Linked DNA regions of Homo sapiens. The protein of the gene in region 1 purifies or fractionates together with the protein of each later gene. This does not show direct contact. Each region holds a gene or a part of one and is shown in the gene's direction. Other genes may lie near its edges.

What was found.
Region 2: the proteins of SLC7A8 (region 1) and NUP210 purify together in Homo sapiens (affinity purification with mass spectrometry; one large-scale study listed by BioGRID and IntAct). This does not show direct contact.
Region 3: the proteins of SLC7A8 (region 1) and SPG7 purify together in Homo sapiens (affinity purification with mass spectrometry; one large-scale study listed by BioGRID and IntAct). This does not show direct contact.
Region 4: the proteins of SLC7A8 (region 1) and GBA2 purify together in Homo sapiens (affinity purification with mass spectrometry; one large-scale study listed by BioGRID and IntAct). This does not show direct contact.
Region 5: the proteins of SLC7A8 (region 1) and FLVCR1 purify together in Homo sapiens (affinity purification with mass spectrometry; one large-scale study listed by BioGRID and IntAct). This does not show direct contact.
Region 6: the proteins of SLC7A8 (region 1) and SPTLC1 purify together in Homo sapiens (affinity purification with mass spectrometry; one large-scale study listed by BioGRID and IntAct). This does not show direct contact.
Region 7: the proteins of SLC7A8 (region 1) and CDKAL1 purify together in Homo sapiens (affinity purification with mass spectrometry; one large-scale study listed by BioGRID and IntAct). This does not show direct contact.

Annotation. Positions count from the first base shown.
Region 1 is NC_000014.9:23,173,661-23,177,160, reverse strand, and holds part of SLC7A8 (large neutral amino acids transporter small subunit 2), read left to right. Parts: intron 1-3,500. UniProt on the Homo sapiens protein: Associates with SLC3A2 to form a functional heterodimeric complex that translocates small and large neutral amino acids with broad specificity and a stoichiometry of 1:1.
Region 2 is NC_000003.12:13,326,323-13,329,822, reverse strand, and holds part of NUP210 (nuclear pore membrane glycoprotein 210 precursor), read left to right. Parts: intron 1-876; coding exon 877-1,052; intron 1,053-2,385; coding exon 2,386-2,606; intron 2,607-3,500. UniProt on the Homo sapiens protein: Nucleoporin essential for nuclear pore assembly and fusion, nuclear pore spacing, as well as structural integrity.
Region 3 is NC_000016.10:89,514,903-89,518,402, forward strand, and holds part of SPG7 (mitochondrial inner membrane m-AAA protease component paraplegin isoform 1 precursor), read left to right. Parts: intron 1-3,500. UniProt on the Homo sapiens protein: Catalytic component of the m-AAA protease, a protease that plays a key role in proteostasis of inner mitochondrial membrane proteins, and which is essential for axonal and neuron development.
Region 4 is NC_000009.12:35,736,366-35,739,228, reverse strand, and holds the end of GBA2 (non-lysosomal glucosylceramidase), read left to right. Parts: intron 1-119; coding exon 120-227; intron 228-325; coding exon 326-477; intron 478-596; coding exon 597-703; intron 704-854; coding exon 855-997; intron 998-1,076; coding exon 1,077-1,192; intron 1,193-1,289; coding exon 1,290-1,481; intron 1,482-1,624; coding exon of another isoform or gene 1,625-1,753; exon of another isoform or gene 1,754-1,781; coding exon 1,782-2,060; 3' UTR 2,061-2,363; downstream 2,364-2,863. Other genes in the region: CREB3 (cyclic AMP-responsive element-binding protein 3), read right to left, coding at 2,503-2,837. UniProt on the Homo sapiens protein: Non-lysosomal glucosylceramidase that catalyzes the hydrolysis of glucosylceramides/GlcCers (such as beta-D-glucosyl-(1<->1')-N-acylsphing-4-enine) to free glucose and ceramides (such as N-acylsphing-4-enine).
Region 5 is NC_000001.11:212,857,033-212,861,074, forward strand, and holds the start of FLVCR1 (choline/ethanolamine transporter FLVCR1), read left to right. Parts: upstream 1-1,242; 5' UTR 1,243-1,420; coding exon 1,421-2,158; intron 2,159-4,042.
Region 6 is NC_000009.12:92,049,414-92,052,913, reverse strand, and holds part of SPTLC1 (serine palmitoyltransferase 1), read left to right. Parts: intron 1-2,846; coding exon 2,847-2,954; intron 2,955-3,500. UniProt on the Homo sapiens protein: Component of the serine palmitoyltransferase multisubunit enzyme (SPT) that catalyzes the initial and rate-limiting step in sphingolipid biosynthesis by condensing L-serine and activated acyl-CoA (most commonly palmitoyl-CoA) to form long-chain bases.
Region 7 is NC_000006.12:20,544,457-20,547,956, forward strand, and holds part of CDKAL1 (threonylcarbamoyladenosine tRNA methylthiotransferase), read left to right. Parts: intron 1-1,882; exon of another isoform or gene 1,883-1,889; 5' UTR 1,890-1,894; coding exon 1,895-2,067; intron 2,068-3,500. UniProt on the Homo sapiens protein: Catalyzes the methylthiolation of N6-threonylcarbamoyladenosine (t(6)A), leading to the formation of 2-methylthio-N6-threonylcarbamoyladenosine (ms(2)t(6)A) at position 37 in tRNAs that read codons beginning with adenine.

The DNA of each region.
Region 1 (3,500 bases):
GCCAGAGAGCTGTAATAATAAAATTAAAAAGTATATAATGTCAGACCATTTTGTTTTCAGCACAATTTATGTTTTTGGGGGATCTTGGTATATTTGCTACAGAACAATACTGGATGCTGATCTAGCTACTAGACCACTATCTCCCAACTAACATGATTTTTTAAAATAGTATTTATTGAGCTCTTACTAAATCCCAATTTTTTTTTTTTTTTTTTTTTTGAGACAGAGTCTTGCTCTGTCGCCCAGGCTGGAGTGGAGTGGGGCAATCTCGGCTCACTGCAACCTCTCCCTCCCAGATTCAAGTGATTCTTCTGCCTCAGCCTCCTGAGTAGCAGGGATTACAGGCGCGAGCTACCACGCTCAGCTAATTTTTGTATTTTTAGTGAAGACAGGGTTTCACCATGTTGGCCAGGCTAGTCTCGAACTCCTGACCTCAAGTGATCTGCCCGCCTTGGCCTCCCAAAGTGCTGGGATTATAGGTGTGAGCCACCGCGCCCAGCCTAAATGCCAATTCCTGAGCTATAAGCTCTTTACATATATTATTTTATTCAATCTTCCCAACAATCTTAAGACAGTACTTATTATAATTACCTGTACGTTAAAAATGGGGAAATTGAGTCACAGAGCTGGTAGCTAATTTTCCTAGGGTCACACCACTGATAACTGAGATGACTCCATAGCCAGAACACTTAGCCATTTCTCATTTCTAATTGGTAACCAAGACAGGAGGAGGCTGATATATATTGCATGGTGGGGCAGTTGGCCATGGAGGAAGACAACCCTGAGACTGGAGTCCAGAAAGACCACGGATGTCTGATACTGAAAAAATTGGGGGAAAAAATTTTAAGGGTTTCTGTCAACAGAGAGGTGTGGCTATGGGTATAACTGTACTGAAATGGCTCTGGACTGACTTGGAAAAATTTCAAGTATAAAAGATCTCACACCCATGTGGTCTATACCACTTTAGAAGATTTTGCATTTTAGTCTCTAATATGATGTATTAGCTTCTAATCCCAAAAATGTCTACTGGATGTTGACCAGAGGGAGGGAGTGTGAAAACTGCTTCTTGAGTTTGTACTTCAATTAAAAAATACAAATACACTCACACAAAACATAGAGGGATTACGATTTGGTTCATTCAGGATGAAAATGTGATTAAAACCCTCATTGTTCTCAAATAAAATTCTGGGACAGAAGCCAGCTAGGAGGTATTTCAAAACAAACACATCTTGGTGAGTAGGGAAAGGCTATATGCCCAGCAATGTAATAATAATAAGTAGCTGCCATTTACTGAGCATACATTGCTAGGTGATGGTAGAGCCTAGATTCCCACCAAGGTCACTAAAATCTGAAGCAACTGGGCTTAACTAAAATGCTCCTCAGTCTGGAGTGCAAGGTGGCCGGGACCAGGGATCCTGTTGGACACTTCCTGACTCCAGGAACCAGAGAGCTAAAGGAGTAATTTGGTTGAATCTGCTACTGTCAGGGCGATAATACATTCCCTCAAAGAGCAGAGTTACGCAGAATGACTGACTAGCAGGAGATGCTTAGAGTGGAGGAAAGAAAGTAGGAACCCGGCAGGTAAGAAACTATGTCCAAGAGACACACCAGACAGCCATTTTAAACAGTCACAGTTAAAAACACCCTGTACCGGCCGGGTGCGGTGGCTCACGCCTGTAATCCCAGCACTTTGGGAGGCCAAGGTGGGTGGATCACTTGAGGTCAGGAGCTCGGGACCAGCCTGGCCAACATGGTGAAACCCCATCTCTACTAAAAATACAAAAATTAGCCAGATGTGGTGGCAGATTCCTGTAGTCCCAGCTCCTTCGAAGGCTGAGGCACGAGAATTGCTTGAACCCAGGAGATGGAGGTTGCAGTGAGCCAAGTTGCACTACTGCTTACTCCAGGACTCTGTCTCAAAACAACAACAAACAAACAAACAAACACAAAACACCACTGTACCCAAACCAAATAACCTTCTCAAGAGCGGCCAGCACCATATATACACTTTTCTGAGTTAAATCAGCTTATTGAAGTGGGGTAGAGGTGTGGGGCATCTTGGCTGGGGCTTCTCAAGTTGCCAGGCTACTGAGGTTTTCTGTCTTTTTGATGGGTAATCCAGCAGCACAGCTGCCTTCAAAGAAATGCCTCAGGAATGTCTGTTGTTGTTTTGTTGTTATTGTAGGAGAGGGAGATGGATCTAGAAAAGCAGGCACATGCAAATGATCCCAGGAGTATATCCCAAACTACAGAAAATAAGAGCCATTCAGGAACCCAGGGGGCTAGAAACTGTTTCTTTCCAATGTTTAACTCCCCGCTGAGCATACAGAGCATGGAGGACCATGCCTTCTTTCCCCTTCCAGAACGCGTCTACAGAGCAGGCCCCCAGATCCCTTCTCCCTGGAGATCTGGAAATGGCAAACTGCAGGCTCCTCTCTGCTGCAGGAGTGGGAGCAGCTGGACATAGGATTCAGAATTATTCCACATTTTAACAAACACTCACCGAGCACATTATATTCTAGGCCTTGTCCTGAGCACTGGTGAATTTTATTTCTAGGAGGCAAAATAATCCCTCAAGTCTATTTTAAGCTGTTTTATTTATAGAATGAGTGAAGTTTGAGCTGAAAAGCTCTATTGATCACATCTCATCCCTCATCTTTGTCACAGTCACATGTCTTCCCATTGGTTTGCTCCCTGCTTTAAATATCCTCAGCATTAGCAGTGACATCACTTCTGGGGAGAAGGTTTCACAATGTCTGAAGGTGGACCAGGCAACCTCACACTGAACTGCACATTGCAAAAGCAGATTACTCAGAAAGAGTACCACTGCTGCAGAATTATTACTTTTCTCATCTGTCTCCACGTTTTAAAGGTGCTTGTTTGTACATTTAGGAAATGCACAAATACTTCAGTGCTTTTTAAGAGTACAGTTCTGCAGAGAGTGTTTAGTAAGCAGCTGATAAAGACAGGTCAGGTTGACTTAAGGTGGTATTTGGACCCTGATATTGAAAGCAGAAAGTTTAGAGTGAATTTTTCCATGATTTGCATCGGCATGCCATAGACTGGGAGGAACCACTGATTAGAAAAAGATGGGCTTTAGAGATAGTCTTAAGTTTGCAAACCGCTTCCCTATTTACAATCTTTGTAATCTTGAGCAAGCTAATTATCAGTTTACTTAGCTGTGCAATGGAAGTTTCTTGTGGAGTATTTAAACAAAGCTGGCCAGGTGGGGTGGCACATACTTGTAATTCCAGCACTTTGGGAGGCTGAGGTGGGAGGATCACTTGGATCCAGGAGTTCAAGACCAGCCTGGGCAACACAGTGGGACCCTGCCTCTACAAAATATTTAAAAATTAGTCGGGTGGGGTGGCACACGCCTGTGGTCCCAGCACTAGGGAGGCTGAGGTGGGAGGATTGCTTGAGCTTGGGAGGCAGAGGTTGCAGTGAGCTGTGATTGTGCACTCCAGCCTGGGTGACAGAGTGAGACCTTGTCTCAAAAA
Region 2 (3,500 bases), on another chromosome or scaffold:
CTTACGGATGGGACCTTCTCCATCAGCATCCCTGGGTCAGGTCCTGGGGTTTTGCTGAATGGAATTTTCTTTCCATGTCTCATCATCACCACTTGCTGAACCCTGGATGACAGAAGACACACACTCACTTAAATCTTTAGACTCTGCCTGGGTCACAGACCTCTTTCATTAATTCACATCATTTTGTTTCAAAATGGGTGCCTGGCAGCAAATCCCCCGCTCTAGTTTTTGGTGAGTGAAAGTGACTGACTGCTCATCCTATTTCAACAAATATGTACTGAGCACTAGCTGTATACCAGACACTGCACCACTGAACTTTGTTAAAGAAATTCAGACCTTTGGAGCACTAGCTTTTGAGCGAGGATAGATTTTCACCTGGACTCAGAGAAACAAGGGCTGCTGTTTATGGAGCTCGGGTTCTTGGGCTCCAGAAATCCCCATTTCCCTCCTTCCCCTGGTGGCCTGCAGGGCATGCTGTGGCCTGCTTAGCGCTGCCCCTGCGATCGAGGAGGATTTCGTTTCTTTAAATGCCCCAAGAGCCAGGTTCTCTGAAGAAACTGGACATTTGCAGCCCAGGGGGCCCTCTTGCAATGTAAATAGTGATCTCATTTATTCAAGTCATGGATTGGGACACTCCTGGGTGGGTTTTCTCATAGAGAGGCCAGTCTGCTGTGTTGGGAAGTAAGAACCTTGTCACTAGGTTGGGACACTCTGGGGAGTGTGGCCTTTACTCCTCTCAGGACCCCTAAGTCCAGCCCTGCATTGTTCCTGAGGTGGATCCTGCTGGGGGCAGGTGTCCCCTCCTTGGGAGGTGGGTTTTCCTGGAGGCCAGTCCCTGGCACTGAATCCTCATCATACCTGTATGTTGTCCCTTAGGTATCCCCTGTTTCCTACCTGAGGGTTTCCATGAGCCCTGTCCTGCACACCCAGAACAAGGAGGCCCTGGTGGCCGTGCCTTTGGGAATGACCGTGACCTTCACTGTCCACTTCCACGACAACTCTGGAGATGTCTTCCATGCTCACAGTTCGGTCCTCAACTTTGCCACTAACAGGTAGGATGTGGGCAAGGGTCATTTCTCCTATGAAGTCCTGTCTGGTACCTGGTAGAGACAACTGGGGATAACACAGAAAGTCTGCTGCTGTTGAAGGAAGATGTGTATTACTTCAGTTTCCAAGAGATGTGGGCATGCTGCACCATGCAGGGCCACGAGGAAACACCACTGCCCTTGGGGGATGTAGACCAGCTCAGAGGAAGACAGACAGGCATCAGCCCCCAAAGGAGGAAACAGGGCATGGGGCAGCTCCAGGGAGTGCTCCCCGAGGCACAGGAAATTGGCCCTTCAGCTTCGGCTGCCCACAGGTCCTGCCACAGTTGTGTTTCCCTGTTGCTGAATGCATTCAAAGACAGGTGTCAGGGGTGTTGCCTTATGGAAAGAACTGGGGTTTAGAGTCAGGCCTGGTTCTAGCCCCAGCTCTGCCCTTCGTGGGCCCTGTGAGTAGGTCACCATCCAAAAATCTGTTTCCACACCTCTCACGTTGGGCAATATGGCCTAGGTTCCAGGGCTTTCCTTCAGCTGAGGGAGTGGTCATGAGGACCGCTGGCAAACCATGGCACTCCGTGTGTGCGCACATAATTGCCATCCATCAGTTTAGGGCATGTCCTGGAGGAAATGGAGCCCAGTTCTCCCAGCCCTTTGGCTGCACTGCAGGTCATTCTGGCCTTCTTGTAGCAGGAGCACCTGATAGAGACCTAGTCAGCACTCAGGGTCAGAAGGTGTGGTGGAGGCAAGGATGCAGCCATGATCCCTAACCCAAACTGTCACCCCACGCAGTCCACACTTCTGCACCAAAGCTGCCATTGCCAACATTGACTGAGCACCTGCCCTGTGGCAGGTGCCTCCCCACTGCTGACCTCATGTAATGCTTATGCCAGGCCTGCGTCACGGTCACGTGATGATCCCCATTTTTCAGAGGAGGAAAGGGGCAGAGGCTGCTTCTGCAGTCAGGTTGCATAGTAAGGGCAGCCTTCCCTTTCTGGCATGTCCAGTTCCCTGGTGGGAAGAGCGTGAGGAAGCACTCTGGATCTCTTTCCCCTCGGGGCCTCAGCTTCCTTTCTGAAATGCAGGAATGATGCTGCTGCCACTGTTTGGCTGCGAGCTGCATGTGCTTTCTGGCATGACAAGTGAGGAGGTCGAGCCTGTGCCACCTGCCTGCAGTGGTCCCTCATCTGGGGCCACTGCTTGGTAACCTCGAGTTGGGGCCACACCTGGGACCTCAGTCAGTTGAATGCTTTGCTCAGCAGAGGACATGGATTACGTTTCTCCCTTTGGGAGTTGGAAGCTTCTTTCCCGAGACTGAGAGCCCTCCTTTCTCTCCTGTGCCTAGAGACGACTTTGTGCAGATCGGGAAGGGCCCCACCAACAACACCTGCGTTGTCCGCACAGTCAGCGTGGGCCTGACACTGCTCCGTGTGTGGGACGCAGAGCACCCGGGCCTCTCGGACTTCATGCCCCTGCCTGTCCTACAGGCCATCTCCCCAGAGCTGTCTGGGGCCATGGTGGTGGGGGACGTGCTCTGTCTGGCCACTGTTCTGACCAGCCTGGAAGGTAAGATAGATCCTGAGCAAGGGAACCTGTGGAGTCACGGACGCTTGCAAAGCTGGGTGGGGGCTACCTGGGCAGGGGCTCGGCACCAGTCACGGGGGCCTACAGGCAGACCTGCAGGATACTCAGGAGCAGTGCTCCAAAACTGCTGCCCGGAGACCAGATCCAGCCTGTGCCTGTTTTCTGCAAGTAAATTTTTGTTGGCACTCAGCTGTGCCATGCATTATGTATGGTCAGTGGCTGTTGTCACCCTACCACTGCCAGATTGTGTGGTCATAGCAGAGATTGTATGGGCTGCATAGCCCAAATGCTTATGTCCGACCTTCACAGAAAGCATTTGCCAGCCCTTTTCTGGAACAGCTCTGCCAAGTCGGTGGGGGGGTCCCCTGCCCCTGTGGGGCATCCTGTCTCTGCATAGTCTCACTCAGTTCCTCTAGCCAGGAGACACACGGATCTCTGCTGCTGCTGAGGAACTGAATTCACCATTTTAGTGAATTCTGTGGGAAGTGGCCGCCATAGTGGACAGCACAGGCTGGGAGACTTAAGCAAAGAAGGACACTGGGCTAAATCAGGGGCTTCCAAATTTCAGCCATGCCCAGGTGACCTGTAGTACATCTGTGGAACACGTGTACAATTATTTACTTAGCTTTTATTTTCAAATTGTCTCCACCTTTTTTTTTAACCTTACTAAATTCATTTTAAAAGGAGATGAAATACTACCTTTAAGGAAAAACAAATATAATTTGCCATAAATAGATTATGGTTGAGTCCTTTAATTGTACTTATTATATAATGTGATTGGCTTTTAACTCAGATGTGTATGTGGTGAAAGCTCTGAGCCTCACACCTGCTGTCTGTTGCTAAAAAGGAATTGATAAGGCAACGAAGGGATGGGGA
Region 3 (3,500 bases), on another chromosome or scaffold:
TACAGGTGTGAACCACCGTGCCTGGCCTTGACCTTTTTTTTTTTTTTTTTTTGAGACGGAGTCTCGCTCTGTCGCCTGGGCTGGAGTGCAGTGGTGTGATCTCAGCTCACTGCAAGCTCCGTCTCCCAGGTTCACGCCATTCTCCTGCCTTAGCCTCCCGAGTAGCTGGGACTACAGGTGCCCGCCACCATACCCGGCTCATTTTTTGTATTTTTAGTAGAGACTCGGTTTCACCGTGTTAGCCAGGATGGTCTCAATCTCCTGACCTCGTGATCTGCGTGCCTCAGCCTCCCAAAGTGCTGGGATTACAGGAGTGGGCCACCGCACCCAGCCCTGGACCTTTTTTTTTTTTAACTTTTATTTTGTATTTATTTATTTATTTTTGAAACGGAGTCTCGCTCTGTTGCCCAGACTGGAGTCCAGTGGTGCGATGTCGGCTCAGTGCAACCCCTGCCTCCTGAGTTCAAGCGATTCTCCTGCCTCAGCCTCCTGAGTAGCTGGGATTACAGGCATGCACCACCATGCCCAGCTAATTTTTGTATTTTCAGTAGATACAGGGTTTTGCCATGTTGGCCAGACTGGTCTTGAACTCCTGACCTCGTGATCTCCCCACTTCGGCCTCCCAAAGTGCTGGGATTACAGGTGTGAGCCACCACGCCCGGCTGACCTTTTTATAAAAAAAAATTTGCTGGGTAGGTGCGGTGGCTCACACCTGTAATCTGAGCACTTTGGGAGGCCAAGGTGGGATGATCACTTGAGCCCAGGAGTTTAAGACCCTCATTTCTATTATTATTATTACTATTATTATTATTATTTTTTTTTTTGAGATGGGGTCTCGCTCTGTCGCCAGGCTAGAGTGCAATGGCACGATCTCGGCTCACTGCAACCTCTGCTTCCTGGGTTCAGGCGATTCTCCTGCCTCAGCCTCTCGAGTAGCTGGGACTACAGGCGTGCGCCACCACGCCCAGCTAATTTTTTGTATTTTTAGCAGAGACAGGGTTTCACCATGTTGGCAAGGATGGTCTCAAACTCCCGATGTCAGGCGATCTGCCCATCTTGGCCTTCCAAAGTGCTGGGATTACAGGTGTGAGCCACCGTGCCCAGCCTGGAGTTTCACTCTTGTTTCCCAGGCTAGAGTGCAATGGCGTAATTTCAGATCACTGGAACCTCTGCCTCCTGGGTTCCAGTGATTCTCCTGCCTCAACCTCACGAATAGCTGGGATCACAGGCATGCAACACCAAGCCCAGCTAATTTTTGTAGTTTTGGTAGAGACCTGGTTTGGCCACGTTGGTCAGGCTAGTCTCAAACTTCTCACCTCAGGTGATCCACTCGCCTTGGTCTCCGAAAGTGCTGGGATTACAGGTGTGAGCCACCACGCCCGGCCGTTCGTTTTTTTAATAAAAGAAGAAAGTTAGATCACTTGGGGCCAGGAGTTCGAGACCAGCCTGGCTAACATGGTGAAACCCCTTGTCTACTAAAAATACCAAAAAAAAAAAAAATTAGCCAGGTGTGGTGTACGTGCTTGTAATCCCAGCTACTCCGGAGTCTGAGGCGTGAGCATCGTTTGAACCTGGTAGGCAGAGGTTGCAGGGAGCTGAGATTGTGCCATTGCACTTCAGCCTGGATAATAGAGTGAGACCTTTCTGTCTCAAACATAAAAAATTAAGAAAGAAAAGGCCGGGCGTGGTGGCTCATGCCTGTCATCCCAGCACTTTGGGAGGCCAAGGCGAGCAGATCACAAGGTCAGGAGATCGAGACCATTTTAGCTAACACGGTGAAACCCTGTCTCTACTAAAAATACAAAAAAAAAAAAAAATTAGGCGTGGTGGTGGGCACCTGTAACCCCAGCTAGTCGGGAGGCTGAGGCAGGAGAATGGCGTGAACCCAAGAGGCGAAGCTTGCAGTGAGCCGAGATCGCGCCACTGCACTCCAGCCTGGGCGACACAGCAAGACTCTGTCTCAAAAAAAAAAATTAAGAAAGAAAAAAGCGACGGCGAGACTCTTGTCTCAAAAAAAAAGAAAAAAGAAAAAAGTCGTAAGAGAAAATATATTTCCTATTTATGCAGTGGAAGCGGATCACCATAAAGAGCTTCATCCTCATGGCCTTCACCTTGAGTGGGCTGAGGAGGAGGACGAGGGGCTGGTCTTGTTGTCTTGGGTAGCAGGGGTGGAAGAAAATCCACGTGTCCGTGATCATACATAGCTCACTCCTGTGTTGCTGAAGGGTCACCTGTCATAGAAGAGGGAAGAATTGTGTGGCCTGTGCGGATTCTGCATTCAGCCTTGTGTGTTGTGTTACGGTTAACCAGGGACGTGTGCCCCACTAATAACTCTGATTCCTGGAAGGAATGGCATGGCAGCCTCCGTTGTCATGGTTCCTGGAGGGAATGGCATGGCAGCCTCCGTTGTCATGGTTCCTGGAAGGAATGGCATGGCAGCCTCCGTTGTCATGGTTCCTGGAAGGAATGGCATGGCAGCCTCCGTTGCCATGGCAAGGCAAAGCCATGGCAGCTTCCTGGTTATCACTCCTGGCATGTGGTAGGTGCTTGTCCAGTGAAATCCTAGTCGTTGCTGCATTGGCAGGTGCCCTGGCGTGAGGAAGGGCAGGCAGTCACCATGCCCTTTGCTCTCCTGGGCCCTGCATCTGCTTATGGATGAGGCTGCGTGTAGCTGACATGCGTGTCTCTCCTGCATCTGAGTAATTGTCGTCGTCTTTTTTTTTTTTTTTTTTTTGAGATGGAGCTTCGCTCTTGTTGCCGAAGTTGGAGTGCAATGCCACGATCTCGGCTCATTGCAAACTCCACCTCGTGGGTTCAAGCAGTTCTCCTGCCTCAGCCTCCCGAGTAACTGGGACTAAAGGTGCCCGCAACCATGCCCGGCTAATTTTTTGTGTTTTTAGTAGAGACGGAGTTTCACCATGTGAGCTAGGATGATCTCGATCTCCTGACGTTGTGGTCTGCCCACCTCGGCCTCCCAAAGTGCTGGGATTATAGGCGTGAGCCACCACGCCCGGCCAAGTGATTGTTTTATGTTTATTCTGTTTTGGGTTGAACTATAGTTTGCTTGGAGAAAATAATGTCTGTTAAATTTGCGTTAGAGGATAATTGTTTACTGAGCCAAATAATCTTTCTTGTGAGAACCTATTCTGGGTTTCCCCTGGGCCCTCTGCTGTGGTTTCGGCGGGAGTTGGTTTGTGTGGATTTTCAGGACTGCTGACTTGATCAGACAGGCACAACACAGTCCCGGCCCTCAGGCAGGCCTTCTCCCTGGTCTGATGCTGAACTGCATGGCGTCTGTTCAGATGAAGATTCTTTTGCCACCTCCTTAAATGAAAGAACGATACTGAATGTGGCTTAGAAACAGCTTTGCCAGCCGTGCAGAATGATTGTAAGTAGTGGTTGCCCGAAAAGTATTTGCTTGGAATACCACTCACTGATAACACTGGTGAACCTGGAAGGAATTATACGGAGTGAAAAAAGGCACCACTCACTGATAACAC
Region 4 (2,863 bases), on another chromosome or scaffold:
CTTCCCTTCATACGTATCTGCATGCTGCTTACTGGTTCCCCACTGCAGTCACACACATAGCTGTGTGCCCCTCCTCAGGCATGCCCATTCCCTGCCTCCCTTCTGTGTCTCTCCCCCAGCTCTGGCCACTCTCAGGGAGGACCTGACACGGCGACGGTACCTGATGAGTGGGGTGATGGCACCTGTGAAAAGGAGGAACGTCATCCCCCATGATATTGGGGACCCAGGTAAAAGTCCACCCCAAGGTCAGCTTCCCTCCCTCAACTTTTGCACCCTCTACCCTATCCACCAATGCAAGTGACCCAAGTCCCCTCCTCTCCCACAGATGATGAACCATGGCTCCGCGTCAATGCATATTTAATCCATGATACTGCTGATTGGAAGGACCTGAACCTGAAGTTTGTGCTGCAGGTTTATCGGGACTATTACCTCACGGGTGATCAAAACTTCCTGAAGGACATGTGGCCTGTGTGTCTAGTAAGGGATGCACATGCAGTGGCCAGTGTGCCAGGGGTATGGTTGGTGTCTGGGAAGAGCCTAGCTGGTTGTTGCCTTTCCTCGGTACCTAGGTCTTCAACATCTTGGTCCCTCTCTAGGCTGTGATGGAATCTGAAATGAAGTTTGACAAGGACCATGATGGACTCATTGAAAATGGAGGCTATGCAGACCAGACCTATGATGGATGGGTGACCACAGGCCCCAGGTTAGCGGGTAGGGGTTTCCAGGAGGCCTGAGGTGAGAAACTGGGCAACAAGGGATTGTAGGGCTCAAGAAAGAATGACTCATTGTCTATTACACGGCATGGGAGCAGCTGGAGCTGCCAGTCTGACCCCCAAACCCATGTCCCTGATCAGTGCTTACTGTGGAGGGCTGTGGCTGGCAGCTGTGGCTGTGATGGTCCAGATGGCTGCTCTGTGTGGGGCACAGGACATCCAGGATAAGTTTTCTTCTATCCTCAGCCGGGGCCAAGAAGCCTATGAGAGACTGCTGTGGAATGGTGAGTTCGGGGAGCCTAAGTAGTCTTAAGGCAGCTGAGAGGACACCAGGAGCCTTATTTTTCTCTTCCTCGACTCCAGGCCGCTATTACAACTATGACAGCAGCTCTCGGCCTCAGTCTCGTAGTGTTATGTCTGACCAGTGTGCTGGACAGTGGTTCCTGAAGGCCTGTGGCCTAGGAGAAGGAGACACTGAGGTGAGAGAGGAGGAGGAGCAGCCAGAGAGAAAAATGGGTTTTCCCTGGAGGTGGGAAGTAAGTATATGAGACCATGTTCCTGCCCTTGCCCCTCCAGGTGTTTCCTACCCAACATGTGGTCCGTGCTCTCCAAACTATCTTTGAGCTGAACGTCCAGGCCTTTGCAGGAGGGGCCATGGGGGCTGTGAATGGGATGCAGCCCCATGGTGTCCCTGATAAATCCAGTGTGCAGTCTGATGAAGTCTGGGTGGGTGTGGTCTACGGGCTGGCAGCTACCATGATCCAAGAGGTAATGCACTCCTTTTCCCATCTCTCCACCATCTGTATCCTGGCCCAGAAAACTTCCTCAACCACCAAATTTCTTCAAGGCATAACCCAATGCCATCTTGTCCGTCTATAAAGCCTCCCATTTTTCCCTGGTATGCATTCCAGCTCCTGCCTTCAGGCTTCTGTCTGTGGGTCATAGTTATCTCCTCCACTTGCTGGGAGCTCCTTGAAGGCAAAGACTCTACTGCCTCCATCTATCCAGTGGAAGTGGCTCTTCAGAGGGTGCCAAGTTAGTATGTATGACTGTCATCTCTCCCAACAGGGCCTGACTTGGGAGGGCTTCCAGACAGCTGAAGGCTGCTACCGTACCGTGTGGGAGCGCCTGGGTCTGGCCTTCCAGACCCCAGAGGCATACTGCCAGCAGCGAGTGTTCCGCTCACTGGCCTACATGCGGCCACTGAGCATATGGGCCATGCAGCTAGCCCTGCAACAGCAGCAGCACAAAAAGGCCTCCTGGCCAAAAGTCAAACAGGGCACAGGACTAAGGACAGGGCCTATGTTTGGACCAAAGGAAGCCATGGCAAACCTGAGCCCAGAGTGAGCCGTCTGAACTGTGGGAGGGAAGTGCTAACAGCCCAGCCTCCAGCCTGGCCTTTCCTCCTTCCCCTCTGAACCTCCTGCAACCCTGAGCCATCAGGACAATCATACCCCTTCCCTTCTCTCCACCCAATTGTGCCAGTAAATGGGGGTTGAGGGTGACCTAGGCAGCATTAGAATCACTTATTTATTTCTTTCCTCACCTGTTCCCTGACTGCGTGAAATGTTCAGGGAGGTCAGTTGATTTCCCCAGGTACATTCATGGTGTGACAGACACATGGGTACAAATAAAAGACCCAGAAAGCCATTAAGTGTGGTGTGTTTGAGCCCTCAGTCGTCCTGACAGGGCACAGGAGCTGCGGCCAGCCCTTGCCCACCGCTTTTTATTTGGACACAGATGGGGAGCCCCCCAGGCTCCTGCTGAGACCCCCCACATATCCTCATATCTAGCCTGAGTATCTGTCCTGCAAAATGACAGAGGGGCTACCAGTAGGAAGCCATCCTCCCTTCCTTGTGAGATTTGCCTGCAGGGGGAGGATGGGACCTCGGCAGAGAGGCTCTGAGAAGAGGTCAGGGAATGGCCACTCCAGGGGAGGCTCTGCACTGGGAGCCTGAGGCATGTAATGCAGCAGGCAGGAAGTGTTGCCAGGGGCCTGGAGTACACAGTCTGAGCCGTCCAACCACTGGTGTGTGCTGTCTTTCGGCACTTCTGACTGCAGGGCAGGCAGCTCCAGCTGGTAAGGGTCCTCACTGGGGAGGGCACGAAGCTGGCGGGACAACACTGAGGAGACAAAGAATCTTCAGAGG
Region 5 (4,042 bases), on another chromosome or scaffold:
ACGGTACAGCGCCCTTGGGAAGCCCTTGTGGAGTTAAGGGTGATGCCCACTTCTTTGTCTCCCTCATTCTGTTTCGGTGGCTCTCTCGTTCCCAGTTCCAAGCTGCCCACTTGTTAGAGGAGCCACTGCTTACCAGGCATCTGGTTTAATAAAACATGGCTAGAGCGACTGCATGTTAAAGTGAGTAACTAGGCACTCACAAGGCACCTATAAGGTTAATGCTAAAGGTCTGAAAATAGCCGCATTCTAAGCTGACCAACAATTATAATTACACAATATTTATGGCCATACAGGACATCTCCCACCAAGTCTGCGGAATTGTCCAGATGTCCTGAGTTTTTTTTTTTTTTTTAGACAAGGTCTCACTTTGTCGCCCAGGCTAGGCTGGAGGGCAGTGTGGTGCGATCTCAGCTCACTGCAACCTCCGCCTCCCAGGTTCAAGTAGTTCTCCTGCCTCAGCCTCCTGAGTAGCTGGGACTACAGGCATGCACCACCACGCCTGGCTACTGGCTTTTTTTTTTTTTTTTTTTTTTTTAAATAGATGGCATCTCAGTATGTTGCCCAGGCTGGTCTCGAACTCCTGGGCTCAAGGGAGACTCCTGTCCGGCCTCCCACAGTGCTGGGATTACAGACGTGGCCACCGAGCCCGGCCCAGCCCTCTACTCAGAGATAACGTCAATGCGCAGGCTTAGGTTGAAGGATTAATGGTCATTAGTGCACCAACAGCCCCTACCTTTAGTGGGCACATCAGCACATTCCACGATTAATCACAGCTCCTCACAGCTGCCTCTAAGTAGTGACACTACCGAAGGACGGGAGTTCCTCCTCCTGCAGTCTGAGGACTTGCACTCTCTAACGGAGTAGATTCCAATAAACTTGCTTCCTTCACTGCGCTCTGTGACTCGCCTCCAATTCTTCCCTGAAGTAGACCCAAGAACCCTCTCTTGGGGTCTGGATCGAGACCCCTTTTTCCAGCAACACAACCCGCGGGGCCGCCTCCCGCCCACCCTCAGGTGCAGGAGACCCCGGGCCATGCATCCTTCCGGGCAGGAAAATGTCAGCCAGCGCTCGCCGGCCGCTTTCCTCCCCCGCCTCCCGAAGTTCTCGCCCGGTAGCTCCCCGACTGGCTCTCGCGCCGGACAAAGGCGCACGCTGATTGGCCGGAGGGCCGTAGTCATGCAGGACGCGCGACTCTAGGGGCGGGACCAGACAAGGGGTGACTGCCGCGCGGCGCGGGGGAGGAGACCTTCATCTGTTCACGCGGTAGCGCGGATTGCGGTTCGCGGCGCGCGCCACCGGGGAAGGAGCGGTGGGCCGAGGGGTTGGAGGTGGGGCCCCAGGAGGACCTCGGGCTGTGGGCCGGGAGAGCGGAGTCGGGGAGTGGGGCGGGGGAGCGAGGTGGCGCCGGGGAGCCTGGGATATGGCGCGGCCAGACGATGAGGAGGGGGCGGCGGTGGCGCCCGGACACCCGCTCGCGAAAGGATACCTCCCGTTGCCGAGGGGCGCGCCCGTTGGGAAGGAGAGCGTGGAGCTGCAGAACGGGCCCAAAGCGGGCACCTTCCCGGTGAATGGGGCCCCCCGGGACAGCCTCGCTGCCGCCTCGGGAGTTCTGGGCGGGCCTCAGACTCCACTGGCCCCAGAAGAGGAGACCCAGGCCCGGCTGCTGCCTGCGGGCGCGGGAGCTGAGACCCCGGGGGCCGAGAGCAGCCCGCTGCCCCTTACGGCGCTCTCCCCGCGGCGCTTCGTGGTGCTCCTGATCTTCAGCCTGTACTCGCTGGTCAACGCCTTTCAGTGGATCCAGTACAGCATCATTAGCAACGTCTTCGAGGGCTTCTACGGTGTCACCTTGCTGCACATCGACTGGCTGTCCATGGTGTACATGCTGGCCTACGTGCCCCTCATCTTCCCGGCCACCTGGCTGCTGGACACCAGAGGCCTGCGGCTCACCGCCCTGCTGGGCTCCGGCCTCAACTGCCTGGGTGCCTGGATCAAGTGCGGCAGTGTGCAGCAGCATCTCTTCTGGGTCACCATGTTGGGCCAGTGCTTGTGCTCGGTGGCCCAGGTGTTCATCCTGGGCTTGCCCTCCCGCATCGCCTCAGTGTGGTTTGGGCCCAAAGAGGTGTCCACAGCTTGTGCCACCGCCGTGCTGGGCAATCAGGTAAGTACTGGAGTGGTAGGTGAAAGTCAGATCCTTAAAAGACCGGAAAAAGTCATAGGCCGTGAGAACTATGGCCTGTATGGATGAACTGCCCCAGGAGGTATTTGTCTATAAAAGAGGAGATGAAGCCGTTGAATAGGAGGCCGTCTTGGATTGAAGTGGGCTATAAATTTCTTTGTAAGGACAAAATTTTCCAAACGACCTTGTCATCTTGCTTTGAAAATTACCTATAAAATAATTAACTGGGCCGGGCGCGGTGGCACACACCTGTAATCCCAGCACTTTGGGAGGCCGAGGTGGGTGGATCACTTCAAGTCAGGAGTTCCAGACCAGCCTGGGCAACATGGGGAAACCCCGTCTCTGTTAAAAATACAGAAATTAGCCAGGCCTGCTTGCGGGTATCTGTAGTCCCAGCAACTCAGGAGGCTGAGGCAGGAGAATCTCTTGAACCCGGGAGGTGGAGGTTGCAGTGAGCGGAGATTGCACCTTTGCACTCCAGCTTGGGTGACAGAGTGAGACTCTGTCTCAAATAATAATAATAAACTGTAACCATAATAATAATAATAATAATTAACTGTATTGGCTTGTGTATGCCTAACATGGAAAATTTGTCAATGCAGTAACGAACAAGACTTGGGGTATTATTTTTGTCACCAGTGTATTTGTGAAAGGAAGGTATTGGGTTCTGGGAAGATTGTTTCCATTTTGAGAGGTCATTGTGAACAGCTCCCTTTTAATTTCATATATTAGCAGTCAGCACAGTTCCTGGCACATAAGGGACACATAAATGACTGCTAACCAAAAGTTCTGGGCTGGGCGTGGTGGCTCACGCCTGTAATCTCAGCACTTTGGGAGGCTGAGGCAGGCGGATCACTTGAGGCCAGGAGTCTGAGACCAGCCTGGCCAACATGGCAAAACCAAATACACAAAAATTAGTGGGGCATGGTGTGGTGCATGCCTGTAATTCCAGCTACTCAGGTGGCCAAGGCATGAGAATCTACATGCTTATTGCTTTATAGTCATTTCCCTTATCTAAAAGTACAGAAGATGGAGTAGGTTGAACTATAGTTGTTTGTCCAAAATAATTTATGACTGATACTTGAGTTGGTTGCATCTGCAGGTTTGGACAGAAGCTATTATAAAGTTTTTTGTGTGTGTGGTTTTTTTTTTTTTTTTTTGTAGAAATGGGGTTTCTCCATGTTGCTCATGCTTGTCTCGAACTGCTGAGCTCAAGCTCTCTGCCCACCTCTGCCTCCCGAAGTGCTGGGATTACAGGTGTGAACCACCACGCCCGGCCATGATTACATTTTCTTTGTCACACATCTCTCAGTTTAAATTCATTTTTAAATATTCAGTAGCATTTCTTGATCCCATTTAGAGTTGCCCAGTCACTCTCTTTACATTATTTTACTTTAATTCTCCTTATAGCACTCATCCCTGTCTCATATGTTATTGTTTACATGTTCATATGTTACTTACCTATTACTTTTCTCTTATCCCCACCATTAGATTGTAAGTTTCATGAAAATAGGAATGTGGTCTGAATGTACACAGCTGTATCACCAGCATTTATTACTCTCCATAAAACCATGTTGAATAAATAAAGGAGCTTCAGACTCATACAGATACTGGCCAGCTGGATAGTCTACTTGGATATCTCATGGGAACACACCACTCAAAATTGCTTTCTCCTTGCTCATTTCCCTTTATCTCTAATGCCACTGTCTTGGTTTGGGCCACCCACAGCTCTCACCTAGAGCTTGCTAACTGTCCTCCCTATCTGTAGCCCTTGCTGTCTTCCCTCTGTTCTCGCATTCATCCAGCGTGGTCTTTTACAATGTGCAAATCTGTTCCGGGCACATCCTTACCCCCTGCAGTGGCTTC
Region 6 (3,500 bases), on another chromosome or scaffold:
TAAAAATTTTGATGATGTCCAGTTTATGTGTTTTGTTGTTGCTTGTGCTTTTGTGTTTTATTTTAAAATCTTTGTTTAATCTGGCCGGGCACGGTGGCTCACGCCTGTAATCCCAGCACTTTGGGAGGCCGAGGCAGGTGAATCATTTGAGGTCAGGAGTTCGAGACCAGCCTGGCCAACATGGTAAAACCCCGTCTCTACTAAAAATACAAAAAAATTAGCCGGGTGTGGTGGTACACGCCTGTAATCCCAGCTACTCGGGAGGCTGAGGCAGGAGAATTGCTTGAACCTGGGATGTGGAGGTTGCAGTGAGCCGAGATCACGCCAGTGCACTCCAGCCTGGGCAACAGAGCGAGACTCTGTCTCAAAAAAAAAAAAATAATAATAATAATCTTTGTTTAATCCAAAATTATCAAGATTTATTGCTATGTTTCCCCCTAAGAGTTTATAGTTTTCAGTCTTACATTTAGGTCTGTAGTTCATTTGAGTTCATTTTTGCGTATGCGTTGATGAAGAGGTCCAATTTTATTCTTTCACAAGTGGTTATCCAGTTTTGCCTGCATCATTTGTTTAATGTTTCCCCATTGACTGGTCTTGGCACCCTTGTTGAAATTAATTGACCATAGATGTATGGGTTTATTTCTAGACTCTATTCTGTTTCATTCTTCTATATATCTGTCCTATGCCAGTACCACACTGTGTCAATTATTGTAGCTTTGTAGTGAGTTTTGAAATCAGGACATGTGAGTTCAACTTTGTTCTTTTTCAAAATTATTTTAGCTATTTGGGGTCTCTTGAAATTCCATTTGAATTTTAGGATTAGCTTTTCCATTTCTGTAAAAAGTATTGTTGGGATTTTGGTGGGGATTGCATTGAATATGTAGTCACATTGGGAAGTATTACCATCTTAATGATATTAAGTCTTCCAGTCCATGAACTTGGGATTTTTCCATCTATTTAGATATTTCCTTCAGCAATGTTTTGTGATTTTTAGTATATACGTCCTGCACCTCTTTGGTTAAATTTATCACTAAGTATTTGATTTTTTTATTCTACTATAAATGGAATTGTTTCCTTAATTTCCTTTTTAGATTGTTTACTGCTATTTATAGAAATACAACAGATATTTGTGTATTGCTTTTGCATAATGTAACTTCTGCTGAATTTATTAGCTCAAATAATACTTTTGTGGATCTTATTCTATGTATAAGATTACACCATCTGTGAATAGAGATAATTTTACTTGTTTCTTTTCAATTTGGATGCCCTTTATCTTTCTTGCCTGATTGCCCTGGCTAGGACCTCGACTACAGTGTTGACTACAGGTGGCGAAAATGAGCATCTTTGTCTTGTTCCTGATCTTATAAGGAAAGCTTTCAGTCTTCTACCATTGAGTATGATGGTAGCTGTGAGTTTTTTATAATAACCTTTTATCAGGTTGAGGAAGTTCCTTCCCATTTTTAATTTATTGAGTGTTTTATCATGAGAGGTTGTTGGATTTTGTCAAATTTTTTTTCTGCATTTATTGGGATGATCATGTGGGGTTTTTCCCCCTACATTCTTCTAATGTGTATGTAATACATATTTGATTTTTCCATGTTGAACCACCATTGCATTCGGCCATTGAGATTTTAATCTAGGAGTCTATTAATTGAATAAGGATTCAAAATAAGGGTTCCATATGTTGTTTTTAAATGTTTTCACTATTTCTGAGGAAATCTAAATATATTTTAAGTATCAATAGAAGAGATGTATTTGTTTTCTTCTTTTTGTTTTTGTAAGAGTGTCAATGGTTGATAGAATAATGGGAGGGAGGTAGTGAACCAGAAGATACTAGGACGTATATTATAGGGCTACAGTAATGAAGCAGTGCTAATGGACAGATACGAAACTAAAGATGAAGTGTAGGAACAGCTCAAGTGTAGATAAGCACTGAAGCTGGGCATGGTGGCTCACACCTTTAATCCCAACACTTTGGGTGGCGGAGGTAGGAGAATCACTTGAGCCCAGGAGGTCAAGGCTGCAGTGAGCCATGATCCTACCACTGCACTCTAGCCTGGGTGGCAGAGCAAGACTCTGTCTCAAAAAAAAAAAAAAAAAAATCAGTATTGTGCTGTCTTTTGTTAAGTGAATCATTTTAGACCATCTAAAGGACAATTGATTCTCATCATTCACCCTACTTATATTCTATAAAGTTGCCATGAACACTGGAATAAGAAATACTAAACTATTGCTGCTAGGGCAAATAATAGGGTTAGGTTCCTCTGAGCCTCTGGTTACAACATTTTCATCAACCAGTTGACACAAAACTTGCTTTATGTGTATTTTTGTTTAAAGGTGTCTTATTTAATGTCTGTTGATTCATTGCACTACCACTCATGCCTGAACAAAGCTTCTCTAACACACAAATTTTCTCCATAAGGGACATCACAGCACTAGGAGTAATAGACGGCACTTTAGCATGACACTTGGGGGCGACTCTAAATAGCAAAATCACCAACAAAAAGCACAGAAGTCCAAAAAAGTGGCAGTAAATAGGCCATGAAAAGGGTAGTTGTTCACAGGATCAGAGCTGAAACAGTCGCCTGTTCACCCTCACCTGGGAAAACACGTGTCAGGTAATTCAAATTCTTCACTGCTCTGCACATGCACATATCCGTGATGACAGGAAAAAAGTATTGATATGGAGGTTGCAAATAAGTTTTAATAAGTAGATGAATTTGCACATATAGAATTCACAAGTATTGAGAGTCAGCTGTACATACTTTTTAATCTTAATTTTTTTCTCCATAATATGTTCTATATGGTGCTAATCATTAGTATTTTAACGTTTATATAACACTTAGGTTAAGTTAAAATACAAATACAAAGCAAGAATCTTCCTGGAGGAAAGCCTTTCATTTGGAGTCCTAGGAGAGCATGGCCGAGGAGTCACTGAACACTATGGAATCAATGTAAGTTCCCCTTTTTTAAGAACGTTTCCCCTCTTATAGGAGACATGTAGTTCCATTCTGCTAGGCCTATATTTTTATAGGCACAAGACAGTGTTCCTTATCAGTTTGAAGGGTCACGAAACTTTGGTGTCTGTCACCTCAGTGAGCCCAGGATGAGTCTAGTCAGCCAGACCAGGGAACCCCATCTTCCTTCTGCACTTATAAACTCGGAGTGGGTAGTCATGGTTTGTGCTCTGTTTGCAAAGTTTCATTCGAATAGACTTTTAGTGTCTCTTCTCTAGAAATGGTTAAATTTTGCCTTCCAATTATTTCTTAAAATCATTAGGAATTTCCTGAGTGGTCTTTTCAGAAGTATTCATGACGGCAGAGAAAGGATACTGTTTCTGGTGTTTAAAAATCTGTATTCTATATAATGTGTTTGTGGGAGGTAGATACAGTTACGCGTGCGTGCGTGTGTGTGTGCATGTGTGTGTGTGTCAGAAACACCACTGGCATGCATTCAGCAAAACCTCTTAAAGTCCCAAACAGAATGAGGTGTCATGTTTC
Region 7 (3,500 bases), on another chromosome or scaffold:
ATGGTGGCGCGCGCCTGTAGTCCCAGCTACACGGGAGGCTGAGGCAGGAGAATGGCGTGAACCCAGGAGGCGGAGCTTGCAGTGAGTCGAGATCGCGCCACTGCACTCCAGCCTGGGCCACAGAGCGAAACTCCGTCTCAAAAAAAAAAAAAAAAAAAAAAAAAATTGGGTAGACCAGTTCTTCTTACTTTACTCTTCTCAAAATTGTTTTAAATATATTAGTTTCTGTACATTTCCATATAAAATTTAGGATAGTCTTATCTATACCTACAAAAAAATCTTCCTGGGATTTTGATAGGGATTATTTTAAACTTGTGTATCAGTTTGGTCTCCACTGACACTGCAAAACTTCATTACTGGTCGGTTGGTTGGTTTGAATGTCCAGGATCCCTCCAGGTCCTTCTCTGATTCTACACTAGTGGAGTGTGTTGGGGTGCTTGATTGTAGGTAGAAGTCCAAGCTCTCCCCACTTGGCCTTTGTAGCGTGCCTGGGGGTGGGATTACAGTTTTGTGTGTGTGTGTGTGTGTGTGTGTGTGTTTGTGTTTGGCTGGAGTAGAATGATTATTATCTAAAACTTTTCTGTCTTCCTAGGCTGCCCTTTGTATAGTTCTTTAACGAGAAAGCAGGCTTTTATTGGGGGGTTTTATTGTTGGCATCTCTTGCCATTTCTGATTGCTGGGATCTTTAGTGAGCTGTAGGAGGCAGAAGAAAACCCAAGGAACTCATCATATTCCTTGGGTCCTGAGGTTCATAGCCAGTCTGCCTTATGCTTGTTTTATATATAATGTCCAGAGTTTTATTTGTATTTTGCTGGCGGGGCAGGGAAAAATGTGCTTATCTTCTTGCAAGCTGTGTCCACATTTTCTTCTTTTAATTATAAAAATTTTGAATATTTAGAAAAGTCGTATAGGATAATGAACATGAACCTATCTAGTTTCTAGTTTTAAGAGTTGTAAATGCTTTTCAGTATGTCTTAATCTATTTTTTCTTCTTTTTTGAGATGGAGTTTTGCTCTGTTGCCCAGGCTGGAGTGCAGTGGTGCACTCTCGACTCACTGCAACCTCTGCCTCCTGGGTTCCAGCGATTCTCCTTCCTCAGCCTCCCAAGTAGCTAAAACTGCAGGTGTACACCACCATGCCTGGCTAATTTTGTACTTTTAAAAGAGATGGGGTTTCACCATGTTGGCCAGGCTGGTCTCAAACGCCTGACCTCAAGTTATGCGCCCACCTCCCCAAAGTGCTGGGATTACAGGCATAAGCCACCCAAAGTGCTGGGATTACAGGCATAAGCCACTGTGGCTAGCCAGTCTATTTTTTCTGAGGTCCTTTTAAAGTAAATTATAGACATAATGACATTTCACTTCTAAATATTCAATATGCATCTCTAAAAAATAAAATTTTTGAATATAAGGACAATACTTTATATCGAATGATTTATAATAACTTCTTCATATTATCTAATATCCAGCTTATATTCTGATTTCCCTAGTTATACCCAAAATTTCTTATAGCTTGACAGACAAAGAAGAAACAATCAAGAACATGAACTGCATTTTGTTGTTAGGCTTTTACGCTTCCTGTTATCTGAAACAGTTCCTCTCCTACTTTTTCCTACTTGACATTGATTTGTTGAAGAAATAGTTCCTGTTGAACCTTGGAATGTCCCATTGTCATTAGGGTTTTGTCTGATTGTTTCATTGTGTTTCTTTTTTCAATATACCCAAGATAGTACTTCATCCTTGTGTTTCTTTATCTCTTGTATTTTCTATAAATTTGAAGTTAGATCCAAAGGCTTGATTAGATTCAAATTTGGTGAGAATATTTCATAAATGATGCTACGCTAAGCAGATTTTCATAAGTTGATTTTATTTATAACTTTTATGTGGTAGAGAATATGCCTTCTGCATCCTGTGATACACTACTGGATGACATCGAAGATATCGTGTCTCAGGAAGATTCAAAACCACAAGATAGGCATTTTGTAAGAAAGGATGTTGTCCCGAAGGTACGAAGGCGAAATACCCAAAAATATTTGCAAGAGGAAGAAAACAGTCCACCAAGTGACAGGTAAGCTTTTTTCCTTGAAATTATATTCATTTTCTTTTTTTTTCTTTTGAGACAGAGTCTTGCTCTGTCGCCCAGGCTGGAGTGCAGTGGTGTGATCTCGGTTCACTGCAACCTCCTCCTCCTGGATTCAAGCTATTCTCCTGCCTCTGCCTCCCTAGTAGCTGTGATTACAGGCACACACCACCATACCTGGCTATTTTTTGTATTTTTAGTAGAGATGGGGTTTCACCATGTTGGCCAGGCTGGTCTTGAACTCCTAACCTCAGGTGATCTGCCCACCTTGGCCTCCCAAAGTACTGGGATTACTGGCCTGAGCCACTGAGCACGGCCGAAATTATATTCATTTTCATTCCAGGGAGAAGCTGACGCTACTGGTCTGTGTGATATATATAATGTCTCTTCATTAGAATCTTTGAACTTTTGATAGGAAATACAAGTTGAGTATCACTTATCTGAAATGCTTGAGACCAGAAGTGTTTCAGATATCACATTTTTTTTTTTGGATTTCGGAATATTTGCATTACATACTTTCCAGTTGAGTATTCCTAATCCAAACATCTGAAATGCTCCAGTGAGCATCCTTTGAGTATCATTTTGGCACTCAAAAAGTTTCAGATTTTAGAGCATTGTGGATTTTGAATTTTTGAATTAAAGAAACTCAACCTGTATGTAGATTTTTTTTTTATTTGAATGATTTTAAATTTGGCAAGGTAATTGGTTAAAAAGAAATGAGATGTCAAATTGGATGTTCCTAGAAGATAGCCTCGGGCAATAGGGATCTCTTGGGTATTACTGTAGTTGATATGTAAGTCTGTGTTATTTCCAAATAAAATTTTTACCAGAGTTTGTGATTCTTATGAGACAGTAGTATTTTGGACATTTGAATTTTCTTAGCTGATTTTCAAATACCTGTGGATCAGGTAAAGGCAGTGGGCACAAATAAATTATTGCCCTATTTACGCTATTATAGTAGATCTCTAGTCCGTGAAATTTTGATACAACCTAACCAGAAAGGATAATGTAATTATATGGTTTTAATAAGCCTATATTTGTTTATCTAGTCAACTGCTGAACTTTATAATCTGCTTATTTTGTTGGGAAACTAAGCTTTTAAATTCTTGGAATTTAAAATTTGCTTATATTTTAATGACTGAAGTTTATAAAATTTGTCCTAAATGTGTCCTTAAGGTAATTTTTATTTACTTATAAATTATTAGAGCAATCCAAGTTGAAAGTCCTTTTTTCCCCTAAAAGTTATTTTTAGAACTCTGATTTTATAGAGTGCTTTTAATAATGCTTTAGGATGACGGTTTTTAACTTTGATTAAGTTACTTATATCTGTAAGTTTTAAGGAAGCTACAGATTGCAACTAGTATGTAGGAATCTGTAAACAGACATACTTTTCTTTATTTGCCATTGCTGCTAGAACCACT